2 separate regions of the Homo sapiens genome follow, and region 2 is reported to be linked to region 1. Evidence: microRNA targets listed by miRTarBase, many of them from high-throughput screens and not tested one by one. Region 1 holds a microRNA gene; the other region holds the end of a gene's coding sequence.

Region 1 (4,320 bases):
TTTCCTTTCCCATTAGAACCCCTCAAGTGTCAGACCCTCTGCCCCTCCTCGCAGTACTTCCGCCTTGCCTCATGCCTCCCAGGCACTATCTCTGTGAACTTTGAGCTCTGCCCCTATTGCCCAAGAAAGGCTCGCTGATGAGGAGGAAATTGCCCAGGTTTATAGTTTCCTCCCAGCCTCTCTGGCGACACCTGAGCCTGCTGCTTCTCCCCTTCCGCCTCCCGCCACAGTCATACACACAGCCACTCATGCATACTCACATCACACCACACTCCAACCAGCACTCCCCACGCTGCCAGTCACACATAGTTACACACATACAATCACATATATGTTCCCATATAGACACATTCACACTCATACTTTCACACATGCACACGCATGTGCACACACAGTCACTCATTTCTGTGTTGGAGATTGGGTGAGGACATTCAATGGGTGAGGACCAACAGGTGTGAAGATTGCTTTCTAGAAAATGACGCCTGTCTCTCTTTGCCATTCTTCCCAATCCAATGGAGCTACTAGGCTTTTCCCTCATTTCATGTTTAATAAACAAGCCGCTCTTGCGGAACGATGGTTGGATCCCTCATCAACCACCACACACTCCCGACCCCACCCTCCTTCCTGCCCCTGCCAGCAAACCTGACAGGTCCAAGGCCTGGAATTGAGAACCTGTTTTCTTCCCCATCCTGCCCCCTTGTGACGGGAGCCTAGAACTGCTGGCTCTGCGCCCAGAGGTTAACCACATTTCTCAGGAAGGTTCCAGTAGCCAGGCGGGTTGTTAGGAGAGGTCTGTATCCAACTCCCCTCCTCCTGCAGAGGGGCAAACTAACTAAATGAAGATCCACTCTTCCTTCACCCCGATCCTCAGGGCCACCAGAAGAGCTGACTGCTGTTTCACAGGCACACTCCACTGGCACAGGAGATGGGTGGGTGTGCCAACTGGACCAGCATATGGCAGGACCCTTATGATGATCAAGCCTACAGTCATCATACAATCACAGGATTGTTGCCCTATATCCATATTTTCTTGACACCCTAATAGTGCATTTGGCTAAACCTTGGTGAAATAGGCATGACAGCATGTGACTGTGCCGCCTCTGACACTGACCACCCAGGCCTTTCTCTTCACTCCTTCCCTGAGGCCTTGGAGGGTCTGCCTGTGGCCTTTAGTCTGGTGTTTGAGCTCACAGAACTGGGTGTGGTTGACCCTCCCTTTGTCCTCACCCCCTCCACACACACACAGGGATGCTCTTGCAGGCTCCTGGTTTGATGAGGCAGCCCAGGATGTGTCCCCACCTTTCCTCTTTGAGCCCAGGGCCAGTGTATTTCAGGCCGAGTGATTTCACCCAGGGTCTTGTTTCCATTCCATTTTATTTTTAGTCCTCAGGTGCAGTGGGATGAGTCCCTCCTATTCCCCAGGTGATGGCTGGCTGTCATCATTGGTCCTGACTAGTCACCTCTTGCTTCATGTATTCCCCCCTCACTCCATTGTCATTTCCATGCCCCCACCCCACAGGCAGCCATTCTACTATATCCTTTATTTGTATGTGTTCTTGTGCAGTGCTTTGTAGGCATGGATTTTGGTACTGCAAAGTGCTGCATTGTACACATAGTATTGCATAGTGTTGCCTTATTACCATTTCTGTAACAAACTGAATGTGTTACTTTATGTTGGAGCGTGGTGGAGCCTTAAGAATTTATTGAGAATCTCTGCATTAATGATTATGAAAGTGACTGCAAGTTTTCGCTGAGTCTTATTTCCTGAACATAAACTCAGGATCCTGGACCATGGTCATGTGGGAATAGCAAGAGAACTGAAAGTGGAGCCTGTCACATCTCCAGACTCCAGTTTTAGTTCTCTTGCTATTTCCACCACATCTTTCATCACTTCCTCCACTAAAGTCTTGAACTCCTCAAAGCCATCCACGTGGGCTGGAATCAACTTCTTGATGATGGATGAAGCCACTTCCTTGTGGCTGGAACCAACTTCTGTGTTTCCTAAAATGGGGACAGCAATAGTACCTACTCTCTAAAATTTGTTGTGGGCTAGGTGCGGTGGCTCACGCCTGTAATCCCAGCACTTTGGGAGGCCGAGGCAGGCAGATCATGAAATCAGGAGATCGAGACCATCCTAGCTAACATGGTGAGACCCTGTCTCTACTAAAAATACAAAAAATTAGCCGGGTGTGGTGGCGGGCGCCTGTAATCCCAGCTACTCGGGAGGCGGAGGCAGGAGAATCACTTGAACCTGGGAGGTGGAGGCTGCAGTGAGCCAAAATCACGCCACTGCACTCCAGCCTGGGCGACAGAGGGAGACTCCGTCTCAAACAAAAAAGAAAATATTTTTTGTGAAGATCAAATGGGTTAATACAAGTGAAGAGTGCCTGGCACTACTAGTGCTCAGTAAACATTGTTTATGGATGCTTTCTTTTTTTTTTTTATTAGGCCTTATAATAGCCCTATGAGGTAATATAATTAGTTCCATTTCACTGATGAAGAGACCAAGGTCCAGGGAACAAAACAACTTGCCCAGGTTTGCATCATGATACTGCCAGAAGCTAAATCTAGATCTTCAGACCCCAAGACGGCCACAGGACCTCGATCCCCATGTGTTCCCTAGAGGTGTTGTGCAGAACCTTCCTGATGCTGATCTGGATGACGAGCGGTCACCCACAGGCTGCTGGAGATGATTCCTGGTCGGGTGGCCCTCAGTCCTCCTTGATCTTTCTCCCACACTGTGATCTTCACACCCACTGGCCATTCCTGAGAAAGAACCTGCCTTCTCCAGGGCTTTTGTGGGTGCCCATGTTCACCAAGCAGCCTCTAAAGTGATGTGAATCCTAGCGCCAGGCCTGGTAGTAGCACATATGCATGGTAGATGCGTGCTGGAAAAGCAGGAGCCCTAGGAGCCTGCCTTGGGTTCTAGTCCTAGCCATCCATTGCCTCACCCTAGGGTCTAACTTTCTATCTCTAACCTTCAGTTTCCACATCTGCACAATGGGGATAGGAACTTTTCTGTGAGGATCAAGTAGGTTTTAGGAGACTATTCCAATCTTGATCAAATACTAACAGTCGCCTGAACCCTGCAGAACAATCCCTGCTTGTTGTACAGTCTGATGCCACCTCAGATGAACCATTACCCACTGTATGCACTGAACATTTTCCCCTCCCCTCCAGGAAGATCATCCTCTGGATCTGCCCTCCTCACAACGGCCTTATTGCTTTTCTGGAGTCACCGAATCTTAGAATATCGGTGCTGGAAAAGAACTTGAGGACCATCAGTCCCAGTGTGGCAAACTTATCTCCTTATCAAGGACCCCCGCTGCCTAAAGCAGTGGTTGACTCAGTCATTGCTCCCCTCACTGCAGGGTGCAGTGTGAAGAGGGGACAGATCATCCTGTGAGTTACAGGCCACCTTCAGCCCAAATACCCCCTTTCTACAGATAGGCAAACTGAGTAAATGATGATCCCAACTTCCTTCACCTGACCCTCGCCTCAGGGCTACCAGGAGATAGGGACGCCATGTTGGCACAGGAGATGGGTGGGTATGCCACCTTCCCCATGGGCAGGCCCCTATTGCGGTCACATCTCAAGTGACTACTTACAACCATCAAACAATTAGGGTTTACTGGTGGATGTCTTTATCTTTTTGACATTCTGTAGAATTATGCTAACAGATTTTGGAAAACAATTTGCCCAAAATCTACGTGACTTCATCCTTTGATTTTTGTTTGTTTGTTTGAGACAGGGTCTTGCCCTTCACTCAGGCTGGAGTGCAGTGGCGCCATCACAGCTCACTGCAGCCTTGACCTTCCAGGCTCAAGTGATTCTTGTGCCTCAGCCTTCCAAGCGGCTGGGATTACAAGCGTGCACCACCACGCAGCTTTTTTGTTTTTTTGGTTTTTTTTTTGAGATGGAGTCTTGCTCTGTCACCCAGGCTGGAGCGCATTGGCGTGATCTCGGCTCACTGCAACCTCTGCCTCCCGGGTTCAAGCGATTCTCCTGCCTCAGCCTCCCAAGTAGCTGGGACGACAGGTGCGTGCCACCACACCCAGCTAATTTTTGTATTTTTAGTAGAGACGGGGTTTCACCATATTGGTCAGGCTGGTCTTGAACTCCTGACCTCATGATCTGTCCTCCTCAGCCTCCCAAAGTGCTGGGATTACAGGCATGAGCCACCGCACCCAGCCATGCCTGGCTAATTTTTGTATTTTTAGCAGAGACAGGGTTTCGCCATGTTGGCCAGGCTGGTCTCGAATGTCTGGCCTCAAGTGATCTGCCTGCCTCGGCCTCCCAAAGTGCTGGGATTACAGACGT
Region 2 (3,000 bases), not on the chromosome of region 1:
CTTGAAGAATGAGCCAGTGATAAAAAATTTTTAACTTTTTTTTGGTGTGTGGGATGGAGTCTTGCTCTGTTGCCCAGGCTGGAGTGTAGTGGCACAATCTCAGCTCACTGCAGCCTCCACCTCCCAGGTTCAAATGATTCTCCTGCTTCAGCCTCCCAAGTAGCTGGAATTACAGGTGCATGCCACCACGCTCAGGTAATTTTTGTATTTTTAGTAGAGATGGGGTTTCACCGTCTTGGCCAGGCTGGTCTCGAACTCCTGACCTCAGGTGATCTGCCTGCCTTGGCCTCCCAAAGTGCTGGGATTACAGGCATGAGCCACCATGCCTTGCCTTAACTTTTATATCGTGTGTGATGAATTTATATCATGGTGTGAATTTTCTGGAGCATTTTACAGGCAGAGATTGCTTAATCATGGGTATATGTTCTGAGAAACGTGTTGTAGGTGATTTCCTCATGGTACAAACATCACAAAGTGAACTTACACAAATCTAGATGGTATAGCTACAACACATCTAGACTATATGGTACAGTCTATTGCTACTAGGCTATAAACCATACAACATGTTGTTGTACTGAACACTGTAGGAAATTGTAACAAAATGTTAAGTATTTATGAGTCTAAACACAGAAAATACACAGAGTAAACATGCAGTATAAAAGATAAAAAAGGATGCACCTGCATAGGACACTCCATGAACATAGCTTGCAGGACTAGAAGTTGCTCTGGGTGAGTCAGTTGAGTGGTGAGTGAATGCGAAGGCCCAGGATGTTACTGTACACTAATGGAGAATTTATAAACACTGTACACTTGGACTACACTACATTCATAAAAACATTTTTTCCTCAATAATGAATAAACCTTAACTTACTGTACATTATTTTCTTTATAAACTTATTTTTAAAAACTTTGTAATAATTTAGCTTAAAACACATTGTACAGCTGTACAAAAATATTTTATGTCCATATTCTATAAGCTTTTTCTATTAAATTTTTTTAAACTATTTTTGTTAAAGACTAACTAAGACACAAACACACATTAGTGTAGGACTACACGGGGTGAGGATCATCAATATCATTGTCTTCTGCCTCCATGTTTTGTCCCGCCAGAATACGTTCAGGGGCAGTCCTGCACATGGAGCCGTCATCGCCTATCATAACAAAGTTTTTCCGGGAATATCTCCTTAAGGACCTGCCTGAGACTGTCTTACTGTTAAAAAAACACAGGAATACATTCTAAAACAGGATTGTAAATATATAAACCAGTAACTTAGCCATTTATTATCAAGTATATATTGCACATCTGTGCTGTAATTTTTTTTTTTTCGAGACGGAGTCTCGCTCTGTCACCCAGGCTGGAGTGTAGTGGTAGATCTCAGCTCACTGCAATCTCCACCTCCCGGGTTCAAGCGATTCTCCTGCTTTGGCCTCCCAAGTAGCTGGGACTACAGGCACACCAGAACGCCCAGCTAATTTTCGTATTTCTAATGGAGACAGGGTTTCATCATGTTGACCAGGCTGGTCTTGAACTCCTGACCTCAACTGATTCTCCCACCTCAGCCTCCCAAAGTGCTGGGATTACAGGTATGAGCCACTGTGCCCAGCCAATTTTTTTTTTTTTTTTTTGATACAGTCTCACTGTCACCCATGCTGGACTGCCATCACGTGATCTTGGTTCACTGTAGCCTTGAACTCCTGGGCTCAGGCAATCCTCCTGCCTCAGCCTCCCATGTAGATGGGACTACAGGGTGTGCTACCACACTTAGAAAATGTTTTTATTTTTTGTAGAGACAGGGTCTCACTAGGTTGACCAGAGTAGTCCTGGCATCAAGCAATCCTACTGCCTTAGTCTCCCAGTGTTGGGATCACAGGTGTGACCATGCCCAGCTGTGTTGTACTTTTTTTTTTTTTTTTTTTTTGAGACAGAGTCTCGCTCTGTTGGCCGGATCTCAGCTCACTGTCAGCTCGGCCTCCTGGGTTTATGCCATTCTCCTGCCTCAGCCTCCCAAGTAGCTGGGACTACAGGCGCCCACCACCACGCCCGGCTAATTGTTTGTATTTTTAGTAGAGATGGGGTTTTACCGTGTTAGCCAGGATGGTCTTGATCTCCTGGCCTCGTGATCCGCCCGCCTTGGCCTCCCAAAGTGCTGGGATTACAGGCGTGAGCCACCGTCCCCGGCCGCTGTCTTGTACTTTTATACAACTGAAAGTGCAGCACGTTTACACCAGCACCATAAACACTTAAATAATGTGCTGCACTATGGTGTTACTACTGCTACTAAATTGCGGTTGATAGAAATGTTTTAGGTGTTATATAATCTTATGGGGCTACCAACCTATATGGTCCATTGCTGACTGAAACATGATTATGTGGTACCTGACTATACATGAATCATCTTGTATCTCGCTTTCTATATTACTTACATTGACAGGATTTCTCTCTTCAGTGGGAATTTTCACAACTTTGAAAGCATCTGTTAGAATTGAAAACTTTCTCCTATTTCTCACATTTATAGAGTTTCTATCGATTGTGCATTCTCATATGTTTTTTTAAGGATGTGGACACACTGAAGGCTTTTCCACATTGCTTACATTCAAGAGGTTTCTCATAATTGTGAATTCTTGTATGTCTTTGAAAGGAACTGTGAAGACTAAAGGCCTTCCCACATTCTTTACATTTATAGGGTTTCTCTCCAGTATGCATTCTCATGTGTCCTTGAAAGCTTGTGGGATAAATAAAGGCCTTCCCGCATTCCTTACATTCATAAGGTTTCTCCCCAGTGTGAGTTCTTTTATGTATCCGAATGTAACTAGAACAACTAAAGGCTTTTCCACATTGTTTACATTCATAGGGTTTCTCTCCAGTGTGAGTTCTTTCATGTGTTCGTAACGCACTAGGAAAAATGAACACCTTCCCACAGTCCCTACATTTATAAGGTCCGTCTCCAGTGTGGGTGATCATGTGTCTTCGAAAGTTCTCAAGAGAAATGAAGGTTTTTG

What was found. The annotated mature microRNA hsa-miR-3925-3p reads ACUCCAGUUUUAGUUCUCUUG and lies in region 1 at 1,846-1,866, shown strand. An mRNA with a match to its seed (bases 2 to 7 or 8) in the 3' UTR can be bound and repressed. Matches are read on the target gene's strand: a 7mer-m8 pairs with bases 2 to 8, a 7mer-A1 pairs with bases 2 to 7 and ends in A, and an 8mer does both.
Region 2: miRTarBase lists ZNF791 as a target of hsa-miR-3925-3p. The part of its 3' UTR that is shown has no 7-base or 8-base seed match.

The regions. Positions count from the first base shown.
Region 1 is chr6:36,619,992-36,624,311 of GRCh38, reverse strand. MIR3925 (microRNA 3925) reads left to right here and starts at 1,800; the gene lies at 1,800-1,876.
Region 2 is chr19:12,628,782-12,631,781 of GRCh38, reverse strand. ZNF791 (zinc finger protein 791) reads right to left here. Exons shown (of 4, transcript NM_153358.3): 4 at 1-3,000. The coding sequence ends at 2,522. Among named protein-coding and RNA genes, the nearest start is that of ZNF791, 19 kb to the right of the region's middle.